Homo sapiens: one gene and its partner. The protein of the gene in region 2 interacts with the protein of the main gene of each other region in a pairwise test. Each region holds a gene or a part of one and is shown on either strand. Other genes may lie near its edges.

What was found. The genes of interacting proteins can lie anywhere in the genome.
Region 1: the proteins of LSM11 (region 2) and RAB19 interact in binary tests that used the Homo sapiens proteins (3 or more experiments, as listed by UniProt).

The regions. Positions count from the first base shown.
Region 1 is NC_000007.14:140,399,912-140,407,079, forward strand, and holds the start of RAB19 (ras-related protein Rab-19), read left to right. Parts: upstream 1-4,146; 5' UTR 4,147-4,306; exon of another isoform or gene 4,307-4,557; intron 4,558-7,168. UniProt on the Homo sapiens protein: The small GTPases Rab are key regulators of intracellular membrane trafficking, from the formation of transport vesicles to their fusion with membranes.
Region 2 is NC_000005.10:157,746,691-157,753,712, forward strand, and holds part of LSM11 (U7 snRNA-associated Sm-like protein LSm11), read left to right. Parts: intron 1-4,699; coding exon 4,700-4,839; intron 4,840-7,022. UniProt on the Homo sapiens protein: Component of the U7 snRNP complex that is involved in the histone 3'-end pre-mRNA processing. Increases U7 snRNA levels but not histone 3'-end pre-mRNA processing activity, when overexpressed. Required for cell cycle progression from G1 to S phases.

The sequences.
Region 1 (7,168 bases), on a different chromosome or scaffold from region 2:
GTAGTTTTACAAATTGGAGCAAGGCGCCCATACCCACTAATTTAGTCTCTTACCCTCATGTAGGAACTGGAAGATACAGGCACTAACTCACGTCTGAATTTCAAAAAGATGACCCCCAAGTCCTTGAGGATACATTTCTGAGTTGTGATACTGGCAAGAGGCTCATTTCGCCGTTATAAAGATTTGTGTACATTCGAAAAGGACAGAGAAAGAAATTTTGAAGGAACAGAGAGAAGGCTGAGAAGTCTCTTTATTTTCAGCAGAGGAATTAAGCCTGTTATTTTTCATTTTTATTTGCCCTTATACAGTGGTAGTTTTGTTTCTAGCCCTTATACAGTGGTAGTTTTGTCTCTAGGCATCCAAGGAGAAATATGATGTCAGGGTGAGCAAAAATAAATGAGCCAAATATGTTACTTTTATTTTTAAAAATATATTGTGAATCGTTTATTTTTCAGCCTAAAAAAGGTAGCAAATTCTGACACATACTACAACATAGACGAACCTTCAAAAACATTATGCTAAGTGAAATAAGTCAGACATAAAAGGACCAGTACAGTACAGTTCCACTTATATGAGGTAGCCAGAGTAGTGAAATTCATAGAGTCAGAAAGTAGCATGGTGGTTGCCCATGGCTGGAGGGAAGGGGAAATGAGAAATTGTTGTTTAATGGCTATGGAGTTTCCGTTTGGGATGCCAAAAAAGTCCTGGAGATGGATGGTGATGTTGGTTGCACAACAATGTATTTAATGCCATTGAATTGTACACTTAAAAACGGTTAAAATGGTAAATATATATACATAGAGTGAAATACATAGTTTTTTGTGTTATATTTACATATGGGTGTATACATATATATGTGTGTGTGTATACTTCAAGTATATAACCTGTGTCACCACCACTCAGGGCTAGAATGCCTTCTTAGCCATGTGGTGGTGTGTATCTTTAATCCCAGCTACTAGGGAGGTTGAGGTAGGAGGATCACTTCAGCCGCACCTTTGGAGGCTGCAGTGAGCTATGATCGTACCACTGTGCTCCAGCCTGGGTGACAGAGGGAGACCCAGTCTCTTAAAAAAGAAAAAACAGTGTATATATACACACACATTTATACATATGAATGCCTTCTTTCCTGTAGCCCAAGCTATGCTCTTTGTATTTATAGTGACCTTGGTGGAGAGGGTTGGGTGGTAGACAGAGGTAAGATCTCTCTCCCCTTGACTTCCAAAACCATCAGGATATTTAAATATTTGTAACATTTGTTTTCTACCTGTAGATGTTCTCCAAGTGCTCAGTGGGTCTGAGTCAGGTGACTTTTTTTTTAAACAGTAACCACCCCAGGTGCGGTGGCTCACCCCTATAATCCCAGCACTTTGGAAGGCCGAGGCAAGTGGATCACCTGAGGTCAGGAGTTCCAGACCAGCCTGGCCAACATAGTGAAACCCCATCTCTACTAAAAATACAAAAATTAGCTGGACGTGGTGGCGGGTGCCTGTAATCCCAACTACTCGGGAGGCTGAGGCAGGAGAATCGCTTGAACCCGGGAGGTGGAGGTTGCAGTGAGCCAAGATCGCACCATTGCACTCGAGCCTGAGTGACAAAAGCTAAACCTTATCTCAGGAAAAAAAAAAAAAAAGTAACCATTACCAGAAGAAAGACAACATTTGGACACTGAACTTCATGACACTGACACCTAACAGGTTTTATTTCCTGATCACACATTTGGGGCGAATCTTTACCTACACTGGATTTCCACATTGTGCTGGTGGTTCTCACCCTGCAGCAATATTTGGCAGAGTCTTTTGTTTTCTTGCTATACCTGCCAGTGTTGAGTTTATCTCACTCAGAAGAGAGTATCCTGAAAATGGATATGTAACTGGAATTTTGGGTAAGACAAATATTTTCAAATTTATCTGAAGACATCATAGAAGTAATGTTCTTGGACAGTGAATAAATTGCCCTGTATTTCAGTGCTTCTCAAACGTTGCGGACCCCAGCCTACAGTTAAAAAGACATTTCAGGCCAGGCACGGTGGCCCACGCCTGTTATCCCAGCACCTTGGGAGGCTGATGTGGGAGGATTGCTTGATCCCAGGAGTTCGAGACCAGTCTGGGTAACAAAGTGAGGCCCTGGCTCTACAAAAAAATGAAATAAATAGCTGGGCATGATGGTGCACACCTGTAGTCCCAGATATACAGGAGGCTAAGGCAGGAAGATTGCTTGAGCCCAGGAGGTTGAGGCCGCAGTGAGCCATGACGGTGCCACTGCACTTCAGCCTGGGAGACAAAGTGAGACCCTGTCTCAAAAAAAACATTTTTTTTTTACATCACCCTGTAAAATATGCATGTGTACAACTGACCCAAACATTTTGCAAAACAGTAGTCACTGTTACTACACAAGATACATTCTGAAGTTGTTTCTTAATCCCTTCTTGTGAAAATGCTGGTTGCAACCCACAAAGGTTGATTTCATGACTCATTTATAGGTCTCAGCCCACAGTTTGGAAACAGGACACCGATGTAAATATTTTATCCAACAGGGTGTCTCTGTTTCAATTTTGCTTATTGTGTCTATAATGCCATTTAACTGCCTACATATCACATCCTATGTAGTGGAGAAAATCTGGTCCCTGTGATAGACATTGGGAGGCAGTTACTGTTCTAGACTCTGGGGAAAAAATAGTAAGGAAAATTCACCTCAGCTTTATGCTTCTACTGCCAGCATCTGGGACTGATAAACTTGAGGTTTTCTGGACGTCAACCTTTGCTCTATGGTAGAATTTTTGAGGGAGTGAGGCAGACATTTTCTTTTCAGCTTTTTCTTCTCATATACCTTCAAAGTTCTTTTAGTTTTGTTTTTGCTTCCTTCTCTTTGCATCATCTCCTTTCTCTGACTCCTCACAAAGAGATATTCAGATCTACAAAACAAAGACTTAAATTACTTACAATCTGGCCAGGTACGGTGGTTTCATGCCTTGTAATCCCAGCACTTCGGGAAGCCAAGGCAGGAGGATCACTTGAGCCCAGGAGTTTCTTCTCTTTTTTTCTTTTTTTTTTTGAGACGGAGTCTCACTCTGTCACCCAGGCTGGAGTGCAGTGGCGCGACCTTGGCTCACTGCAACCTCCACCTCGCAGGCTCAAGCGATTCTCCTGCCAGAGTAGCTGGGATTATAGGCTCACCACCAGACCCGGGTAATTTTTGTATTTTTAGTAGAGATGGGGTTTTGCCATGTTGGCCAGGCTGGTCTCGAACTCCTGACCTCAGGTGATCTGCCCACCTCAGCCTCCCAAAGTGCTGGGATCACAGGCATGAGCCACCATGCCTGGCCAAACCCAGGAGTGTCAAACCACCATGGGCAACATAGGGAGATCCCAGCTCTAAAAACAATAAATAGTGGGGCATGGTGGTGTATGACTGTAGTCCCAGCTACTTGGGAGGCTGAAGTGGGAGGCTTCCTTGAGCCTGGGATGTTGTGGCTGCAGTGAGCCATAATTATGCCTCTGCACTCCAGCCTGAGCCATAGAGCAAGACCCTGTCTCTAAAAAATATGTATATATAATAAAATAAATTACTTAAGATCTATATCCTCCTTTAGTTGGTGTTATCTCAACTAACAACCCTCAGGCCAGCTGTAGTCCCAGATATTCAGGAGGCTGAGGCAGGTGGATTGCTTGAGCCCGGGAGGTTGAGGCTGCAGTGAGCCATGAATGGTGCCACTGCACTTCAGCCTGGGTGACAGAGTGAGACCTTGTCTCCAAAAAAAAAAAAAAAATTTTTTTTTTACATCACCCAGTACAATATGCACATGTACAACTGACCCAAACATTTTGCAAAACAGTCGCTGTTACTACATGAGATACATTCTGAAATTGTTTCCTAACAAGGGACACCAGGACAAATTGAGAGCAAAGGACGCAAAAGCCCACAAGACAAGGTAAAGTAGAAGAAAGGAGCAGGGGCAGTGTCGTATGGGCCAGCACTGGTTTAATTCACTGGCTGTTCCTTCCTGTGAGGGCTTTCCGCTAGGCCGGCGAAGGCTGGTGAGAAAGCCGGCTCTGCGCCCTGCCCTGTGCTGGCCGCCCTCACCTGGCGCTTTGTACCCTGAGGCAGCTCCGGACTCAGGGCAGGTGGGAGGGATTGCACTTTCCTTTCACTTTCTCAGGACGCCAAACCCGACACCTGGGGCCAGAACTACACTTCCCACCAAGCAGCGAGGCAGGAGGAAGAAGGGGGCACTGGGGGGCTGAAAAGCAAACCCAGAAGAAAGCGAAAACATTACCTGCTGACCAGCAGAGGTGAGAGAGCGAGACAGGTAAGCGACAGGTGAACCAGGAAGGCGAAGGCTGCGGGATGCCGGCGGGAGGACATCATCGGGGTGGACGCTGCCTGTGCCTCCCAGCAAGGCTTGTAGGCTCAATGAAAGGGGGCTTTAGTGGAAACCCTGAGGACTCCTGAGGGTGGGGGGAGACATGGAAGTAAAGTCTCAGCTCAAGTTACAGTGATAAGACCAAGACACCGGAAGTGGAATGGCTGTCTTTAGTTGAAAAGTCAGACAGGAAAAAAGTGGTTTGATTGTGTCTGTTGTCTGCTGGATCATCTACCCATATGTGATTTCAGAGAGGTCCAAGAGAGGTATGGGATCCTTCTTCATCGCCTTAAAGCCCTGGGTTTTTGCATGCAGATTGGACATTTGAGTGCATTTTACCTTGTGTGATGAGACAGAGTGTCCTTGTCTATGACTTTAGAGAAAACCAAAGTAAAACGGAGAGGTGAAGAAGGATGTCACAAGGCAGGGGCAATTTGCAGCACATCAAATGTAATCATTAAGTGGGATCAGGTTTCAGTTACTTTTAGAGCAATTGGATGAGGAGTCCGAACACACTCTCAGGAAGAACAGTTAAAGAGGATGGGGATATTCTCCTTGGGGGAATATTCTTGCTGCTTCAAATATCTGATGGGCTGTCATGTGGAACAGGAATGTGATGTGTCTTGGCAGAGTAAGGATAGCACGGAGCTAGACAGATGGAAACCTCATGGAGGGAGGTGTCAATCCCACAGAAGTGAGAGCTGCCCAGTGCAAAATGGAAATTTTTCAGGAGGTAGTCAGTTCCTTGTGATCAGAGATATTTAAGCATAGGTGGACATTTAAGCCAGGGATGCTGATGGTGGGAGTAAGTTTCAGGTAGGTGACTTGGTCGATTGGTGTTTTCCAAACCTGGCTCATCATCAGAATCACCTGGGGAAGAGACAGAGCAAGAGGGGAGGGGAGGGGAGGGAAGAGAGACAGAGGTTTTTGGTTTTGTGTTTTTGTTTGTTTGTTTGTTTGTTTTTTGAAACGGAGTTTCGCTCTTGTTGCCCAGGCTGGACTGCAATGGTGCGATCTCGGCTCACTGCAACCTCTGCCCTCTGGGTTCAAGCCATTCTCCTGCCTTAGCCTCCCAAGTAGCTGGGATTACAGGTGCATGCCACCACGCCCGGCTAATTTTTTGTATTTTTAGTAGAGATGGGGTTTCACCATGTTGGCCAAGCTGATCTTGAACTCCTGACCTCAAGTGATCCGCCTGCCTCAGCCTCCCAAATTGCTTGGATTACAGGTGTGAGCCACTGCCCCTGGCCTATTTCTTATTATTTTAATAGAGATGGGCGGGGAGGGGGGGCGCAGGGCTCTCATTATATTGCCTAGACTACTTTCAACCTCCTGGCGTCAAGTGATCCTTCTGCCTCGGCCTGCCAAAGTGCTAGGATTACAGGCATGAGCGACTGCGGCCTGGCGCACTAAACATATTTTAAAGTTAAAAACACAAAACACAAAACCTGGCCCAGTGCAGTTTTGAGATCATACCACTGCACTCCAGCCTCGGTGACAGAGCGAGACTCTGTCTCAAAAAAAAAAAAAAAAAAAGAATACTAAGAAATAATTTTTAAAAGAACAAGGTAAAATATGTTTAGCAAGTCTGGGATGAGCTCCAAAAATATATTTTTTCAATGATATTCCCAGATAATTCTGATAATCAGTTAGTTTGTGAAACACTGTCATTAAAAACCTTTATTTTCCAGCCGGGCATGGTGGCTCATGCCTGTAATCCCAACACTTTGGGAGGTCAAGGCGGGCAGATCACCTGAGGTCAAGAGTTCCTAACCAGCCTGGCCAACATGGCAAAACCCTGTATCGACTAAAAATACAAAAATTAGCCAGGCGTGGTGGCAGGCACCTGTAATCCCAGCTACTTGGGAGGCTGAGGCAAGAGAATCGCTTGAACCCAGGAGGCGGAGGTTGCAGTGCAGTGAGCCAAGACCACACCATTGCATTCCAGCCTGGGCAAGAAGAGTGAAACTCTGTCTCAAAAAAAAAAAAAAAAAAAAAGGAAATATATATTTTTCAATGATACTCTCAGATAATTCTGATAATCAGTTAGTTTGTGAAACACTGTCATTAGAAACCTTAATTTTCTGGCGGCGCGTGATGGCTCAGGCCTGTAATCCCAGCACTTTGGGAGACTGAGGCAGGTAAATCACTTGAGGTCAGGCATTCGAGACCAGCCTGACCAACATGGTGAAACCCCGTCTCTACTAAAAATACAAAAATTACCTGGGTGTGGTAGTGCAGGTCTATAGTCCCAGCTACTCGGGAGGCTGAGGCAGGAGAATCGTTTGAACTGGAAGGCAGAGGTTGCAGTGAGCTGAGATCATGCCATTGCACTCCAGCCTGGGCGACACAGCGAGACTCTTTGTCTCAAAAAAAAAAGAAAAAAAAAAACCTTTGGTAAAATATGCCATAACCAGCCTTTGGTAAAATATGCCATAACATTATAGCCATGGTTTTAATTTTGAATATTCTCAAAATCCTAATTTCCTGGTCAAAAAAATTAGGCTCCAAACAGAACAAAAAGGTCATGTCACTCTTCCCCAAGCTGACTTACCAATCACCTCTTATCAGTCCTCGTTGCTAGCTACCTGGATGGTCAGTAGTTTTTTGTTTTTTGGGTGTTTTTTTTTTGAGGTGGAGTTTCGCTCTTGTTGCCCAGGCTGGAGTGCAAAGGCATGATCTCGGATCACTGCAACTTCCGCCTCCCGGATTCAAGTGATTCTCTGGCCTCAGCCTCCCGAATAGCTGAGATTATAGGCATGCGCCACCACACCCAGCTAACTTTGTATTTTTAGTAGAGATGGGGTT
Region 2 (7,022 bases):
CTTGAGGCCAGGAGTTCAAGACCAGCCTGGCCAACGTGGTGAAACCCTGTCTCTACTAAAAATACAAAAATTAGTTGGGCATGGCAGCATCTGCCTCTAGTTCCAGCTGTTCAGGAGGATGAGGCACGAGAATCGCTTGAACCCTGTAAGTGGAAGCTGCAGTGAGCCGAGATCATAGGGACATCATAGAGACCTCTACAGAGGTGATACGAGGTCTCAAAAAAAAGTAATAATAAAAGTATAGGAGGCTGTTGCAATACTGGGAATACTAAAGAAGAAAAAAAGCATAGGAGGAAAGGTTTTTCGTCATCATTAAGCCTAAGCCATCACTGATACCAACAAAGAACTCACACACAAGCTGTACTTGCAAGTGGAATGCAATTGCTTTTCCTCCTTTTTAATATTGACATGCCTATAGAGATGGTAAGACAAGACTAAAGAGCATTATCCTCTTTTCCACATAATTCTAGTGTCTATATTTCTCCTTAGTATCGCAGCACCATACCTAGCCCACGGTGGTTCTGGTTTATAATTGTGCTTCAAGCAAGCTTTTTCTAGGTATATCTGTCACTGTGAAATGAACTGGTGTGTTCAAGCTCACGTCTTGACATTATAAAGCTGTAAGAAAAAGTGTTATCATTACTTTGTTTTAGCTACAGGTGTGTTGGTGTGCAGCCTGTGCCGGTGTGAACAAGTGTGTGTGGTCAATCCAAAATGCATATGACATGCAGGGTTTGGCTCCTAGACCATTGTCTAGGTGAATGGCTTGTCTCCAGTTCCAAATTCAGTTTTCCTGCAGGGAGCCTACACAGTCCTTTTACTCGCACACATCCTGCTGAGAAGGATTTCAAAACAAACCTGATTTATTGGGCCTCTGACGTGATACCATGATTGAAAATTTGTTTGAGTCCTGTTGTTGTAGTTTACTTTGATTGCTGAAATAATTTCCCACAATATGGTGTCTTGATGTTTTCATTTTAATAAAGTGATATTCTTTGGATAACTTTGACTTCACTTCCTGCAAATAAAGAGCAAGAAAATAGGCAAAATCAAGAACATCTGAGCCCTGTGTACAGCAGTAAAATGAACTCTCAAATTTGAACAGCATCTCTGTTACACAGAGGTTGCCAAAAGGGCATGAGTATGACTTACATAAAACCGAGAACAGCGGTACTTAGGCTTCAGAAAAGGCCAAGCTTAAAATTCAGCCTTGTCACTTTTCTCAGCTCATTGCAGCTGTTTCCAGTCAGCTGTCTCCAGTGCAACTAAGGAATAGTCTCAGATGATTTCTGCACCACACTGCTGTGTGTGTGTGTGTGTGTGTGTGTGTGTGTGTGTTTAGGCCAGTTTGACATAGCATCACAATAGGGAAGACACTGATGTGCCTTTGCCGGGTCACTGATTCAAACATTGTACTTTCAATCTGTCATGGCACCCTTCTATAGAATGGCAACTAAAACTATTTTCAGAGAAAAGAGAAAATATTTTTCCATTGCAGACTCATAAGGTGACTGTTACAGTTTGTGGTTTCATTTCTCTGGGCCCTTAATAGGTTATGGAATCTGGGGAGCTGCCTTTGCCCTAATGAGCTAATAACTTTGTATATTTGGAGATATATATGTAGATACAGTTTTGTCCTTAAATCTTTGAATAGGTAGTTGTGGAGGCTAAAGCAACTCCATCTTGAATGCCAGTCCACCATGTTGACTTCTGATTAAACCCAGTTCTGGGAAGGCCTCTAAGATTTCCAATTTATCTGTTGTTTCTTGTGTAAGAGCATGTACTTACTGTAATTCCTGTCCTTACATGAGAACAACCTTGACGTTATCTTACTTCAATTGTCCTACACATCCCTTCTGAATCACCCTTTCCCTGTAGCATATAAGCCCTGCATCTGGGGGTCATGGCACGGGGATCCACCATCTTGTTTTGCCGCCACCTGAGACGCAGACGTGGCTTCTGTTCCTACATTCCTATTAAATATTTCTTTCTAAGGAAAACAAGAGTTACTGTAAGAGGCAAGTTTTAGGTCTTTAAAGAAGGGCATGATTGAGAACAGTTATTTTAAAATCAGGCTGTGATGGTATAATTTACATGTAGCAGGAGAAGGAAGAGTGGAGCTGAAAATGACCTGGATCTGGAAGGATGTGGCAATAGAGAAGGGGATTGGAAGAGTAACTTTCTCCAAAGATAAGGCATATGCTTTTTTGTCATATTTGGTCATAGAAACCTGACTCATATCCATTTGGAGCTTGCCACAGAGACGGCTGGAAAGAGAATGTGCACTCTGATTCAGAATGGGGAGCTCATTTTTGCCTTGGCGGTTTGCTCTGATAGGTGGTGCTAGTGTCGTACTTTTGATCACACAAGGATACAAGGAGAGCAATGCTTCCTGGAATTACACCTTATTAAATCTTTGGAAGAAAAAAATTAAAGGTACACGTTTGAGAAAGACCAATTGAAAGACCTGAATTTGCCATCTATTTAATTAGAGTAAGAGACTGTTGCTAAGATACCTGCTTGCCCTTTCTATTTTTGGAGGTGTGGGAAAGAAGTAATGTCCCTGTTTTTTTCCAAGTTAGAAAAAAATAGTCTTTCCACTCTTTGTATAAACATACATCATAGGGCAGGGGGCAGTATATATGTATGTGTAGGAAAAGAAATAATGCAAGCATGTGATCAGTTTCTAAGAAATTGAGTTATTGGGACTTAGTCCTGAAATAAATCTACAAGTTAACTATCTTAACCTCATTTTATGAATGAGGAAATTTGGAACTTAAAGAAAAAGTTATTCATCAGGTTCACACAACTAGTTATAATGACCTGAAAATTGTTTACAATGCTTGAATGCTTGATTTAATATGGCCTATAACACATATACACGCGCGCGCACGCGCGCACACACACACACACACACCCACACACCCATACACACCCTTAGCTAGCAAATGTACAAAGGACTTTAAAATACTGCTAGAAGAGAGGTAAATGATGATGGTCAGACCAGAATTCTCATGGTCTTTTCCAAAGTCACTGCTTCGTGTCGCTTCCAACTCCGAGTTATTCTCACACCGTTAATCTGACATAAACTCCTGCTAGTCTGCTAAGTCATTTTCTTCTAAGAATCTTTTATTAATTTATCACAGCCATCATTTATAAGCCAATCCATGACAGAGGGATAAGGTGGCTTCAGGAGGAACCAATTTAGTTATCCAAACTGAAGTGCAGGACTGTTGTTCTCCTTTATGTCACTAGAAACAAAGCAGGAGAGATTTTTCATTTGTCTACTGTCAATGCCAAATACTCTATATATCCAGACTTCTAAGACCTGACCAAAAATAAACTTTCTACAGAATTTTGCGTTGCAAACTTGGGAAAGAGTGAGACTGTGTACGCACGAGAAAGAGAGAGAGATTGGGGGTGCGTAGTGCGTGCCTGTAGTCCCAGCTACTCAGTGGGTTGAGCTAGGGGGATCGCTTGAGCCAGGGAGGTCAAGGCTGGAGTGAGCTGTGATTGTGCCACTGCACTCCAGCCTGGGTGACAGTGAGACCCTGTCTCAGGAAAAAAGAATGTGTACGGCTTTCTTTTGGGAGGTTTTATATACCATAGCCAGCATATTGTGAGAGCTGAGTTAACATGAAATAATAAAAATAAAATTCATCTTTCCTCCCACGCTCTGAGAATCCTTCATAATAAAAGCTGAAATTTATAGTCTCAATATTCTTCCTATGAGTCATTATCCTGCTCTCTTCACATGATGCTTATTAGTAGTGTCATAGGAGCCAGATACTCAGCCAGGTGCCTTTTACACTGTCAGGGCTTGGGCCAGAACCAGTGCTTTTCCTCCCAGAAACACCAGTGAGTCCAGAAAGCTTGTGCATGGAGTAGCTTTGGTGGGGTCAAAGGCCTTTCTTTCTGACAGGATTGTACATGTTTAAGGGCAGAGTGCAGTTTGTTTCCTTTGAACATGTAAACAAGGTTTTTGTTTTTTTGGAAGACTCAAGCTGGATATGTGATTCATGAATTGTCTTAAGGCACAGAATTGAGAAGGATCTCGCTGTTAATGTATACATTTAATGTTTGCGTGCCCGTGTGTGTGTGTGTTTCTCAAGATGGAGTCTTGCTCTGTTGCCCAGGCTGGAGTGCAATGGTGCGATCTCGGCTCACTGCAACTTCCACCTCCTGGGTTCAAGCCATTCTCCTGCCTCAGCCTCCTGAGTAGCTGAGATTACAGGCATGGGCCACCATGCCTGGCTAATTTTTGTATTTTTAGTGGAGATGGGGTTTCACCATGTTGGCCAGGCTGATCTCAAACTCCTGACCTCAGGTGATCCGCCCACCTCAGCATCCCAAAGTGCTGGGATTACAGACGTGAGCCACCACGCCCGGCCAACCCCAAAAGTTAAGTGATAGTGCATGTTAAAATCAGTGACATCGTGGAATAAGAGATATACCGGTAGTGAAACATTTGGCTGATATTCATACATATGGATGATCCACATTCTGTTGGAATCTAGTCTTGTGTCAGTGTGTGTTGGCCGTACGAGCCATGTTGCCCATTGGACCTTCCTGTTCCAATAGTGAGATTGTCACTCTACCATGGGCCACATGTTGCTGGCCGAAGTTGGGTGGTCGTGGCTTAATTCTGGGAATGAGGGCAGATATTAAAACTGTCCTGACTGTTCTTCTCTTGTTTCAGTGCACGAAGGCAGCCCTCTGGGTGAACTCCATCGCTGTATCCGTGAGGGGGTGAAGGTGAATGTTCACATCCGCACTTTCAAGGGACTTCGGGGCGTCTGTACAGGCTTCCTTGTTGCATTCGACAAGTTCTGGAATATGGTAATTAAGCCTTTCTCAAGGGGCTGGAGAACCTCCTACAGATTATATCTTCTATAATATTTAAAGGACCTGAGTAACTGCATTAAGTAAAACCCAAAAAATAACTTCTTAGAAGAACTAGAATTTTTGCATACTTTTGGGCAACAACAAGAAAAGGTCTTTTTATTGCTTCCTTCTCCTTAAGGCAGTGGCTCTTAACCAAGGTAATTTTGTTCTTCCTTCACTCCCAGGAACATTCATCAATGTCTGGGGACATTTTATTGTCACCACTATAGGAGAGGGTACTACTGGCATCTAATTGGTAGAGGCCAGGGTTGCAGCTAAACAGTCTACAACACACAAGATAGTCCCTCAACAACAAAGAATTATCCAATCTGAAAAGTCCTTAGTGCCAGGGTTGAGAAACCCAGCCTTAAGGACCAATTATTTTATCGGTTTAGTAATTTTTAGTTGATTTTCTACCAACCATTCTTTCATTAATTAAGAAAAACATTTATTGACTTCCCATTTTGGCTGAACCCCATGCTAGGTGCAAAAGTTTCAGAAAGGAACTTGCACTTTACAGTACATGGGAAGGTAAATAAGGATAGAGGTGAAGCAGACATCAGTAAACAAAGCATTTTGCATGATGTCTTTTTTTTTTTTTTTTGAGACAGTGTTTTGCTCTTGTCACCCAGGCTGGAGTGCAGTGGCACAATCTCAGCTCACTGCAACCTCCGCCTCCTGAGTAGCTGGGATTACAGGCCCCTGCCACCATGCCCAGCTGATTTTTGTATTTTTAGTAGAGACAGGGTTTCACCATGTTGGCCAGGCTGGTCTTGAACTCCAGACCTCAGGTAATCCGCCTGCCTCAGCCTCCCAAAGTGCTGGGATTACAGGCATGAGCCACTGCGCCCGGCCACATGGTGGTTTTATAATGAGGGAGTGTGCCACACTTCCTAGCCTTCTAGAGGCTTACTTTTTTTCTAGACATTTGTAGGAGAGAAGGGATATGTAATAGCACAACTATAATTTGAGGTAGTTAAGAACTACTAGGCTGCACGCGGTGGTTCACACCTGTAATCCCAGCACTTTGGAAGGCCGAGGCAGGCGGATCGCCTGAGGCCAGGAGTTCAAGACCAGCCTGGCCAACATAGGGAAACCCCCATCTCTACTAAAAATACAAAATTAGCCAGACATGGTGGCACAAGCTTGTAATCCCAGCTACTCAGGAGGCTGAGGGAGGAGAATCACTTGAAGCTGGGAGGCGGAGGTTGCAGTGAGCCGAGATCATGCCACTGCACTCCAGCCTGGGTGGCAGAGCGAGACTCTGTCAAAAAAAAAAAAAAAAAAAAAAGAACCACCAGAGCTTTCTGGTGTTTCTTTTCCATATGGTCTTCTATCTCCAACTTTCCTTTTCCCTGTGCTTTATCCCCATCCACGCATCCTCCTGGATAAGAACAGTAGCTGCTAACATATATTGAGTACCTGCTATGTGCCAGGTACTATACTGAGGGCTTCATATATTATCTCAATGAATGAGTTGTGGGTACTATTACTGTTCCATTTCACAAATGAAGAAATTGATTCTAGAGAGATTGGAATGTTGGTCGCAGATCACACTGTTAGTAAGTGGAAGTGCCAAACTTTTTCCTCGGCCTAACTCCTAAAACCATGTTTTTAACCATTAGGGAATTTGAATCCTAGCATCATCACTTGGTAACTGTGTGACTGTAAGCAAGATAATTTCTCTGAGCCTCAGTTTTCTCATTTCCAAAATGCAGGGAAAAATGTTTTATTATGATCTTTTTACCTTTGAAGAATTGAAGAGAATGTGTTAGATGATAGTGGTGATTATAACAGTACTGTCAGCTTCTATTTGTAGGGTGATTTACACTTTTCAAAGGAATTTGTCTTGTACTTCTCATTTGGTCCTAACAGCTGTCCTGTCGAGGTTGCTCTCGGTGATGAGAACTCACCAGCAATTCTGTGTGTAACCCTGGTTAATCTCTGTTAATTGCTTTCATAAGACATAGAAACTGAAGCGGGTAAAGAAGCAGTAATGTTCCTCAAAGTGGGATCTAAAGCCATCCTGCATCAGAATCACCTGGGGCTTCTGGTTGAAACAAAAGGTTCCTGGGCTTCATCCCAGACCTACCAAAACAGAATCTCCAGCAGAATAGCTTTGGGTTCGTATTTTAATA